Regions from separate parts of the Homo sapiens genome. Here all the other regions are reported to be linked to region 1. Evidence: microRNA targets listed by miRTarBase, many of them from high-throughput screens and not tested one by one. Region 1 holds a microRNA gene; each other region holds the end of a gene's coding sequence. Distances are between the middles of the regions.
What was found. Region 1 holds the annotated microRNA hsa-miR-4632-5p (GAGGGCAGCGUGGGUGUGGCGGA, at 1,714-1,736, opposite strand). A microRNA usually pairs through its seed, bases 2 to 8, with sites in the 3' UTR of a target mRNA and lowers its output. Matches are read on the target gene's strand: a 7mer-m8 pairs with bases 2 to 8, a 7mer-A1 pairs with bases 2 to 7 and ends in A, and an 8mer does both.

Region 2: miRTarBase lists CDC42SE1 as a target of hsa-miR-4632-5p. Seed matches in the 3' UTR shown: 7mer-m8 at 1,440-1,446, 7mer-m8 at 1,060-1,066 and 7mer-A1 at 316-322.
Region 3: miRTarBase lists YTHDF3 as a target of hsa-miR-4632-5p. Seed matches in the 3' UTR shown: 7mer-m8 at 496-502.

What each region holds. Positions count from the first base shown.
Region 1 is chr1:12,190,449-12,193,448 of GRCh38, reverse strand. It overlaps MIR4632 (microRNA 4632), which reads right to left and starts at 1,736; the gene lies at 1,676-1,736. TNFRSF1B (TNF receptor superfamily member 1B) reads right to left here. Exons shown (of 10, transcript NM_001066.3): 3 at 2,364-2,492; 4 at 1,526-1,675; 5 at 925-1,018; 6 at 351-586. RefSeq lists an enhancer at 1,180-1,731.
Region 2 is chr1:151,051,459-151,054,458 of GRCh38, forward strand. It overlaps CDC42SE1 (CDC42 small effector 1), which reads right to left. Exons shown (of 5, transcript NM_020239.4): 4 at 2,773-2,863; 5 at 1-1,869. The coding sequence ends at 2,789. Among named protein-coding and RNA genes, the nearest start is that of C1orf56, 5.2 kb to the left of the region's middle.
Region 3 is chr8:63,209,376-63,212,375 of GRCh38, forward strand. YTHDF3 (YTH N6-methyladenosine RNA binding protein F3) reads left to right here. Exons shown (of 5, transcript NM_152758.6): 5 at 308-3,000. The coding sequence ends at 331. Among named protein-coding and RNA genes, the nearest start is that of YTHDF3, 42 kb to the left of the region's middle.

The DNA of each region.
Region 1 (3,000 bases):
GGCACCATCCCACCCAAATAATTTTTTAATTTTTTTATAGAGATGGAGTCTCGCTGTGTTACCCAGACTGACCTCAAACTCTTAGCCTCAAGCAATCCTCCAGCCTCCTTGGCCTCCCAAAGCACTGGGATTACAGGCTTGAGCCACTGCATCCAGCCCACGCACTTAGGGATTTTGAATGATAGCACCAGGTGTGGGGAGAAAGCAGTCTCACTGCCACCTGTATCCCAGGACAGGGCACAGGGTCCAGCCCCCCGTGGGCTCTCAGTAAAACCATGGGAGAGGAAGAAAGAGAGACAGAAAGACAGGCAGACAGAAGGAGTGAATGAATGAGACTTCTTGCGACTTACCAACTGGAAGAGCGAAGTCGCCAGTGCTCCCTTCAGCTGGGGGGCTGGGGCCCATTGGGAGCAGGAAGGAGGTGCTTGGAGCAGTGCTGGGTTCTGGAGTTGGCTGCGTGTGTTGGGATCGTGTGGACACTGGCTGGGGTAAGTGTACTGCCCCTGGGGCCATACTCCGGGTGGGGGACGTGGACGTGCAGACTGCATCCATGCTTGCATTCCCAGGGATGGCCACCACGTTACAGCTGGAGGAGGAGGAGGCTTGGTCAGGAGGCAGCAGGGGACAGAGTGGCTGGGGTGGCTGGGCTCATTCACGGGCCCCAGCAGGCAGGATAGGAGAGTGACGATGTGTGCCCTCTCTGAGGACCACCCCCTCCTAGCCCTCCCCCACCTCCCCATGCACCCACCCAGTCCTGCCTTCCAGGGCAAGGTCCTGCCCACCATGCCATTTATCCTGGGAGCCACCCTCAGATAAAGCAGTCTGGACAATGGTGGTTGGTGAGCTGCTCTGTGTCCTGGACCCACAGTCACCCAGGGACAGCCCCTCCCTGCTCCTCCAGAACCAAAGGACTCAGCTACTCACATCTGGTGGGGCCTGCAAATATCCGTGGATGAAGTCGTGTTGGAGAACGTCCCCGGGGCACAGGGCTTGCACACCACGTCTGATGTTTCAGTTCCTTCAGGGAACAATCCGAACTTGTCAACCACTCAGACACTCTGCGGGACAGCTGGGCCTTGGCACTAGAGCCCTAGGAGAGGTCTGAGGGGCCCAAGGAGCTCTGTCTGCACCTCCACCCCTTACACACACACACACACACACACACACACACAGATGCCTGTACACACATGCACACACACAGATTCCTGTACACACATGCACGGGATTGGGCTGTAGAGTTATGTGAGTTCATCTTGCAGCATCACATAACTTTCCTAGCTTAGGGCTTGGTCTGATCCATCTCTGGGTCTCCTGGTTCCAGTACATAAGAGGTGCCTAATCGGGAGTGCTGGCAGGAAGAATGAACGGTGGACAGGTGGACAGACGGATGGGTAGCAGGCACCTGGCCACCACTAACAGTGCTCCCTGCTGGACTAATTAATGGGTTGATGCCCGTGACACTGCAAGGATGTCTACAAAGGAGAGGCCCATGGGCGTCCCCAAGGACCTGAGCCCCACCCCGTACCTGGTCTGGCCACGCCGAAGCCCGGGCGGCACTTGCGCAGCGGCGCGCACAGCCGGCACCCCTCCTGCTTGCTCAGCGCGCAGTACCAGCCGGGCCTGCAGGTGCAGATGCGGTTCTGTTCCCGAGTGCAGGCTTGAGTTTCCACCTGGTCTAGAGCAGCGAGAGGGCGGCAAACGGTCACGCCTGCCTCCGCCACACCCACGCTGCCCTCCCAGACAGCCCAGCACTCTCAGACAGCGGATCTCCAGGAGGCTGGCGGACCGCCTCAGCATGGGGCACACACAACACCGGCCAGAGTCCAGGGGCAGGACCGGCAGTCCTGCTACTCTCCGCAGTCCCGCTACTCTCCGCAGTCCCGCTACTCTCCGCAGTCCTGCTCGTCCCCCGCAGTCGCGCTCGTCCCCCGCAGTCCCGCTCCTCCCCGAAGTCCCGCTCCTCCCCACAGTCCCGCTCCTCCCTGCAGTCCTGCTCCTCCCCGCAGTGCCGCTCCTCCCCGAAGTCCCGCTCTTCCCCGCAGTCCCGCTCTTCCCAGCAGTTTCGCTCCTCCCCGCAGTCCTGCTCCTCGCAGCACGAGCATGCGCACCACTCTCCCACGCACCACCTCCTCAACCCTCACGTGGGCACAGTTCTCCCACCGCCTGCCCCGTGGGGCTGTGAAGAGGCTTTGGTGAGACAGAGGAGGAAAATGCCAGTGGTAGGGGTAAACAGCTGCACCTGTGCCACTTCCAACAACCAGCCTGGGGTAACTCCAGACAGCTGGAAGCCAAAGAGGCTGGAGTTGCCGGGGGAAGTTGGAGGCAGGGGTGTAAGGGCCCCCTTTTTCTCTGAACCTACTCACCAGAGCTACAGCGGGAGCCACAGCTCAAGCACTCGGGAACCCAGTTCCAGAGCTGGGTGTATGTGCTGTCCTCACAGGAGTCACACACGGTGTCCGAGGTCTTGGTACAGAAGACTTTTGCATGTTGGCCTGAGGAAACAAGGGCCAGAGGTCTCAGCTGGGCGAGCCTTCTGCCAGGACCCTGGGCTCATCCACTGTCCCCACAAAGTCCAGAGTTCTAAAGCCCAGCTGGGAAGGCTATTCTGTGGAGTTCCAATTCCTCAGAATCATCTCCCATCTAGTATTGTACCAGCTATCACGTCATTTCTGAACCCCTTCTGCTCAAAAATAGATTCCTCTCTGCTCTTTCCAGATGCTTGAACCTCCACCACTGGAGCCCTATTATCAGTCAATCACACTTTAGTAAGAACTAGCTTGCCAGTTTCTTCCTTCTTGATAGATGGCTAATATTCTCCAGCTAGGGGCATGAATGATAGGGGGAACAGGTAGTAAGAATGTAGTCCCTGGTATCCTATCAAGGACAAGGGCATGGGCCTGGAAAGCAGGCATTCCAGGGACAGAGAACACCAACGGAAACCTTAAAAAAAAGTTGACTCAGTAGCTGCTTTTTTTTTTTTTTTTTTTTTTGAGACAGAAT
Region 2 (3,000 bases), 140 Mb from region 1:
ATGGGTGGTGGAATTGGCAGAATGGATACCAGTTCCTACATTCCTGACCCCACTACCATAAAACAGGATGTTTCCTGTTGCAAAGCTAATGAGACCCCACCCTTCTTGTCTCAGAGCAGGCAGGAGCTCATCTGTCTTGTTCTGCCTTCCTAATTACCCTGGAAGGGCCAGAACGAAGAACACCTGAGAATACTGAAAGTGCCTAAAAACCCCTGCTCCTACGTTGTTTTCCCATTTAAAGCAGACTCTTCAGCCAGGGGGCAGTGGGACCTGGTCTTCAGACAAAACTCCCTGAGTCTAATGTGTGTCTAGGACTAGGGCACAGAAATAGAGCTTAAAATTTGGGGAGGATAAGGAGTGTATCTACTGCTTCTCTCTCCCCTTTCCCCAATCCTACCATACCCTGTTCATATCTCTACACTGCAGGAACCACTTCTCCAGAGGGCAAGAATGGAGGAGGGGGACCTGTCCATCATAGCAACATGCAAACACAAGCAAAACACTGAATAAAGAATTGTTTGGAGATTATGTGCAGCCCTACTGAGCCTCATTTATATGGGCTCCTAGTTGATCCATGGCTCGGGCTTAAGATGAGTAAGATGATGAGGGTAGCGTGCCAAGCAGAAATCACTTCAGAGAAAAATATCTTGACTTTAGAGTTGTGGTTCTCAAATGGAGGCGATTTTGCCCCCTAGGAGAAATCTGGCAATGTATAGAGACATTTTTGGTTGTCATAACTAGAGTGGGCCAGGGTTGCTGCTAAATATCCTGTAATGCACAAAATAGGAAACAGGTTTTCCTTACAAAGAACACTTCAGCCCAAAATGTCAAAGGCATCTCGGTTGTGAAACCTTGTTCTAGAGCCTCTCCCTGCTCCCGTGCTGTGAGGATCTTAAGACTCCTAAACTCACAGATGATTGTTTTCAACCTATTTATCTCACCATCCTCAATGATCAGAAGTCCACCTTGAGATGGACTTACTCCTAGTTCTGCCGCATTCTGGGTTTCTTTCCAGACCCCTCTTCCTCCTCTCACCTGGGCCAGCAGGGAGGTTGGCAGAGGGCAGGAAAGATGCCCCAAAACTTAAATGGAATGTCATCAGGTGAAGAGCTACCTCTTACCTTAACTCTTATTCGGTGGGAAACAAGGTTCCTAATAGGGATAGAGTTAAGGGCGGAGGCAACAGCAGGATGAGGATAATTAAGAGAACCTGAATTAAATTTTTAATATTTTAAAAAAGGAAAGTTGCTGGGAAGCTGGTAAACAGAAACAGAAGATTAGAGGCCTAACTAGAAAGAGACACTGGTGTTAGCAGAGAGATATTGAGGGGCTGTAAGCCTAAGGTTTGAAATCTAAAGATAGAGTGGAAAAGGGAGTAGGCACCCCCACCAGCCCCTGCTTGACATCTGCTTTAGTTCATTCCAGCAGGAAGGAGGAGAAGGGCAGGGAGGTAGGGAGCTTCTCAGCAAAGCCAGCTTCAGCTTTGATAATCTCACCCACCTACCCCATTTAAGGAGTTCCAGGTTTAAGAGTTTAAAAACAGGTGGCACCCAGACCATCATTCAGGAGACAGGAACTCATTCCAGGTTCCTAGAGAACTCCTATCTCAGACCTGAGGGTTTCCAGGGCTTCAGCTGAGCTCCTCTGGCTAACCAGTAGTCACTTGATCAGTCCTGCTGCCTTGACCCCATCTCCAGGAGGGGCTATGGCCAGAGGGAGTAGAGGGAGTCCAGCCCCCAAGCCTTGTGAGGCACTGTTAGGCAGATAGGGAAAAGAGGGGTCCTTAGATCACTGGTTCAAGGAGGGATCTGGTAGGGGCAGCATTTCTTCTGGGCTGGAAACAGAATGGGGGTTTCAAGATGGCAGAACCTGAAATAAAAAAAAAGTTTTTCTTAAAGAAGATTAGCCTCAAAGAAAACCAAGGCTTTAGGAAGAAGGCACTACCTAGTGCAGACTTTAAGCTATTTCCACAGTGTGTTCTTTACTTCTGTCTGCACAACACCCTCTCAGTCTTTCTATATCCTACATTCTTTTTTTTTTTGAGATGGAATCTCACTCTGTTGCCCAGGCTGGAGTGCAGTGGCGCAATCTAGACTCACTGCAACCTCCACCTCCCGAGTTCAAGTGATTCTTCGGCCTCAGCCGCCTGAGTAACTGGGATTACAGGCGTGTGCCATCATGCCTGGCTAATTTTTGTACTTTTAGTAGAGACAGGGGTTCACCATGTTGGCCAGGCTGGTCTCAAACTCCTGACCTCAAGTCATCTGCTGACCTCGGCCTCCCAAAGTGCTGGGATTATAGGCGTTAGCCACCATGCCCGGCCTAGATCCTACATTCTTGAATCTTCCCTTCTAATTCCTCCCTATCTCCCATTCTTTTTTTATATTTTGAGATAGAGTCTTGCTCTATCACACAGGCTGGAGTGCAGTGGCGCGATCTCAGCTCACTGTAACCTCCGCCTCCCAGGTTCAAGTGATTCTCATGCCTCAGCCTCCCAGGTAGATGGGACTACAGGAGCACGCCACTGTGCCCGGCTAATTTTTGTATTTTTTGGTAGAGACAGGGTTTTGCCTCGTTGGCCAGGCTGGTCTTGAACTCCTGGCCTCAAGTGATCCACCCATCTCGGCCTCCTAAAGTGCTGGGATTACAGGCATAAGCCACCATGCCCGGCCACACCTCCCTTTCTTGCATAAGATCAGGGTTCTGAGTCAGGGTATCAGGTTGTGCTGTTATGGGGGCTGAGGTGTTAGATGGGTTTCTCTAATCACTCACCATTCCATTATTGGAGCTATAAGCCCCTAGAATTGCTCCATGGCCTATCTCGGTTTCCCTTGGATCTCATCTGCTCCTGAACTGCACCTGTCTGTAAAAAAACAGATGCGAGACACCTTCGTAAGTCTTCATATCCTACAGTAAGAACTCTACTTTGTGCCTTCCAGGGAAGAGGCTGACGCCATCTCCTTGACAATAGCAGCCATCTGCTAACCACCATTCCTCCTA
Region 3 (3,000 bases), not on the chromosome of region 1:
ACTCTTTGAAAGGACTGAAAAGATGTTATTATATTCTCATCATAAACAAACAATAGGGATGTGGAGAGGATCTATACTCTCCTGAAATAGGTCTTTGTGTTTGAGAGTTCTTTATGTAAAATGTTTTGTGGTAATAATCTCACTATGGTATATAGAGGTAATTATCAATTGTTTTTAATTACTTGAATTAGTACTTGAACTTTATATGGAGATGATTTACATTATATGTGCATATAGTTTAAATCTTTAAATAATGAGAGTTTTTCATTGTAATTCTTTTTGTGTGTGTGTGTTTTTTTTTTTTCAGGAGAGAAATAGAAACAAACAATAACCGTATGAAGATGTCCTGTTAAATTTACAACACTAACGATGTAGACTCTGGAAATGCCTAATAAGTCAAAGAAGACGTATTAAAGCTCTTTTCTGCTTAAGGTGACATCTTTGAACACTTTAACACAAAGTTGACTCTTCTCGTAATGGTTTTCATCAGCGCATCTGCCCTTATACTCTTCACCAAACACACTTGAGAACTGTAACTTCGTCAAGCACTTTCTGTCCTGAAGCTTTTACCAGTATCTGCTGTCTTTTGTAATTATGCATCCTAGCTAAGGCACAGAAGACTGAATGAATGCAAGGATTCATTAACTCTTTGAATTTGTTAAATACTAACAGTTAACCATTAGAAGTGGTTCAATGATGTAAGAGTCACACTGCTTCAACTTTTTCTTTGTTGTAGTTTTTAAATTGTCGATTTTTAGCTATTTGACAGATTAAAAGCAAAATAATCATGCCATATTTAGTCCTGGAGTTCAAGTCTAAATGTTGATGTGAAAAATTATTGTAGTAAACTTTTAATATGGCAAAGCAACCTTAAGCTCTATTTTAGCCAAATGAAACATAATCTGAAATTATATTAGAACATTTCCCTTGTCTTCAAACTGTTTGGTGTAACAGAATATTGATATGCAGCTTGGTGGATTTCACCAGTTAATGCACATTCTTCTTCCCTCCTCCCCCCATTAATATGTATACTGAAAAATGTGCATTTGTCTGAGGAATTATTTTGTTTGCTACCACTTAATGAATCTCAAAATTTTGAGTAAATGTACCTCAGTCTAATCAGACTTTTTATGACCTTTATAACTACATTTAAAACCCTTAATTCCTATTTCTGGGTGTTTGCGAGCCTGATTGCTATCATGAAGTAAAAATTTATTACTCTAGGTATTCACTAGCTAAATAAACATAGTTCTTGTTTAGCAAGCATATGTTGTTCCTCAGCTCTTTTCTCCAGCTTTTGCAGTGTCCTGGCATCCTTAAAATACTTTGAAAATATGGCCTTGATCCATGGATTAAATCAGTATCTAAGTGAATGTGTTGATGTTTTATTGATCAGATCTATATAAGTGGGAATACAGCATATATCTGGATATTCTTATAGTTATCTTTTTAACATCTTATTTTTTTCATTAATTACATATCAACATTAATTTTGTATCTTGAAGCAAATTGATTTTGTATAATTAAATGTGTCAAGCATCTGTATTAATTGATTTGATGGCATAAGGTTATGAAAATAATGTACTGCCCCATGTATTACTGTTCCAAAAGGAGAAAGCTATGTAGAAAGATACATTAAGGGTGAAAATAGCAATACAGTAGATTTGAATACCTTGATGTTTTGCATTACTTCATTTATGTTTACATCATGTTTAGAAATGTTTTCATTTACTGTGGTCTTTGGTCACTTCAGCTCAAAGACCTAGTGATGGATATTTCTTTGAGGCTTTCATTTATATAATTTTATTTTGTACAATGTTTTTTTTAAATGTGCAAATACTGTATTCAAGTGAAAAAAATACAGTATTTGTAGATAACCATAGCTACTACACAGTTCTTCGGTAGTCCCAGTGTAGTTATATCAGTGTTTACTGAAGGGAACATCAAAATATTAATGGTATATTATAAAATAAAGACTTTCTTAAAGGAAAATTGCACCTATTTTACCTTTTTAAGAGTAAGCCATGAAATCTTGTAACATGTCTCTTAACTATTTATAATGAAAAGTGGCATTTGGGTATAGTCACCACAGCAATGTTCTACATCCCTAAGATTATCTAGGTAGGACATGTCAAAGATGACTGTTGTCATTCTGGAGGTCCTATTAGAGAATATTATAAAAGGGTGACCTTGTAGGAAGGATCTGAGTCCTCCCCCTGAGGTTCTCTTTTTCTTGGTGCTTTATTAGCAACTCTGGATATTTTTATAAAACTAGTTACATTATAAACGGTTTCAAACATGTTTAATTTACATTAGGTTTTTATGTAAGAGTGTCATGGAAGCACTCAGCAAGCAGGCTGATTGCAATAGACTCAGACATGCGAATAAATGTAATTGAGAGTCTATTCATGGTGAGGAGTACATCCCAGTGCCTTTAACCTGGATTTCTAATCTTAAGTGAAATGGGTGCAGCATTCCTTTGGAAAAAAAAATCTTTTTATTTTCAAGTGATAATTTTGTGTTTTTCTCATATAAGTTTTCTCCAGAGCACCCACCTTCTCTTCCTTCTTGGTCTGTCATTATATTGCAAAATATTTTTCCTCTGAATGAAATTATCACAGGTTGTCTCAAGCACAACCAACTGAATGTCTCTTAACTGTGGGGACCAAAAGGGAGAGAGCCTGGGGTCTACAAGAGGAGACACATCATCAAATGTTTGAATGATCACAAATTAAGACATTATCAGCCCAGTAAATTTCTTGCTTAATGTTTTTCCAAGTTCTGGCTTGAATATTTCTTATTAAAGCTATCTTATGTGGGTATTTTATTTTGAAAGGTATTATAGTTTGTATATTTAACAGTAAGGAGGAAACTGTAACCAAAATTAGTATTTCTCTATACGTATTGGTACTTGAAGATTCCTTTCAAAAGAAATCCAGCGTTTTCCTAATTTTAGTACTTAATTTCTCTTTTTAATTTAAGTGATCTTTCTAATTCGAA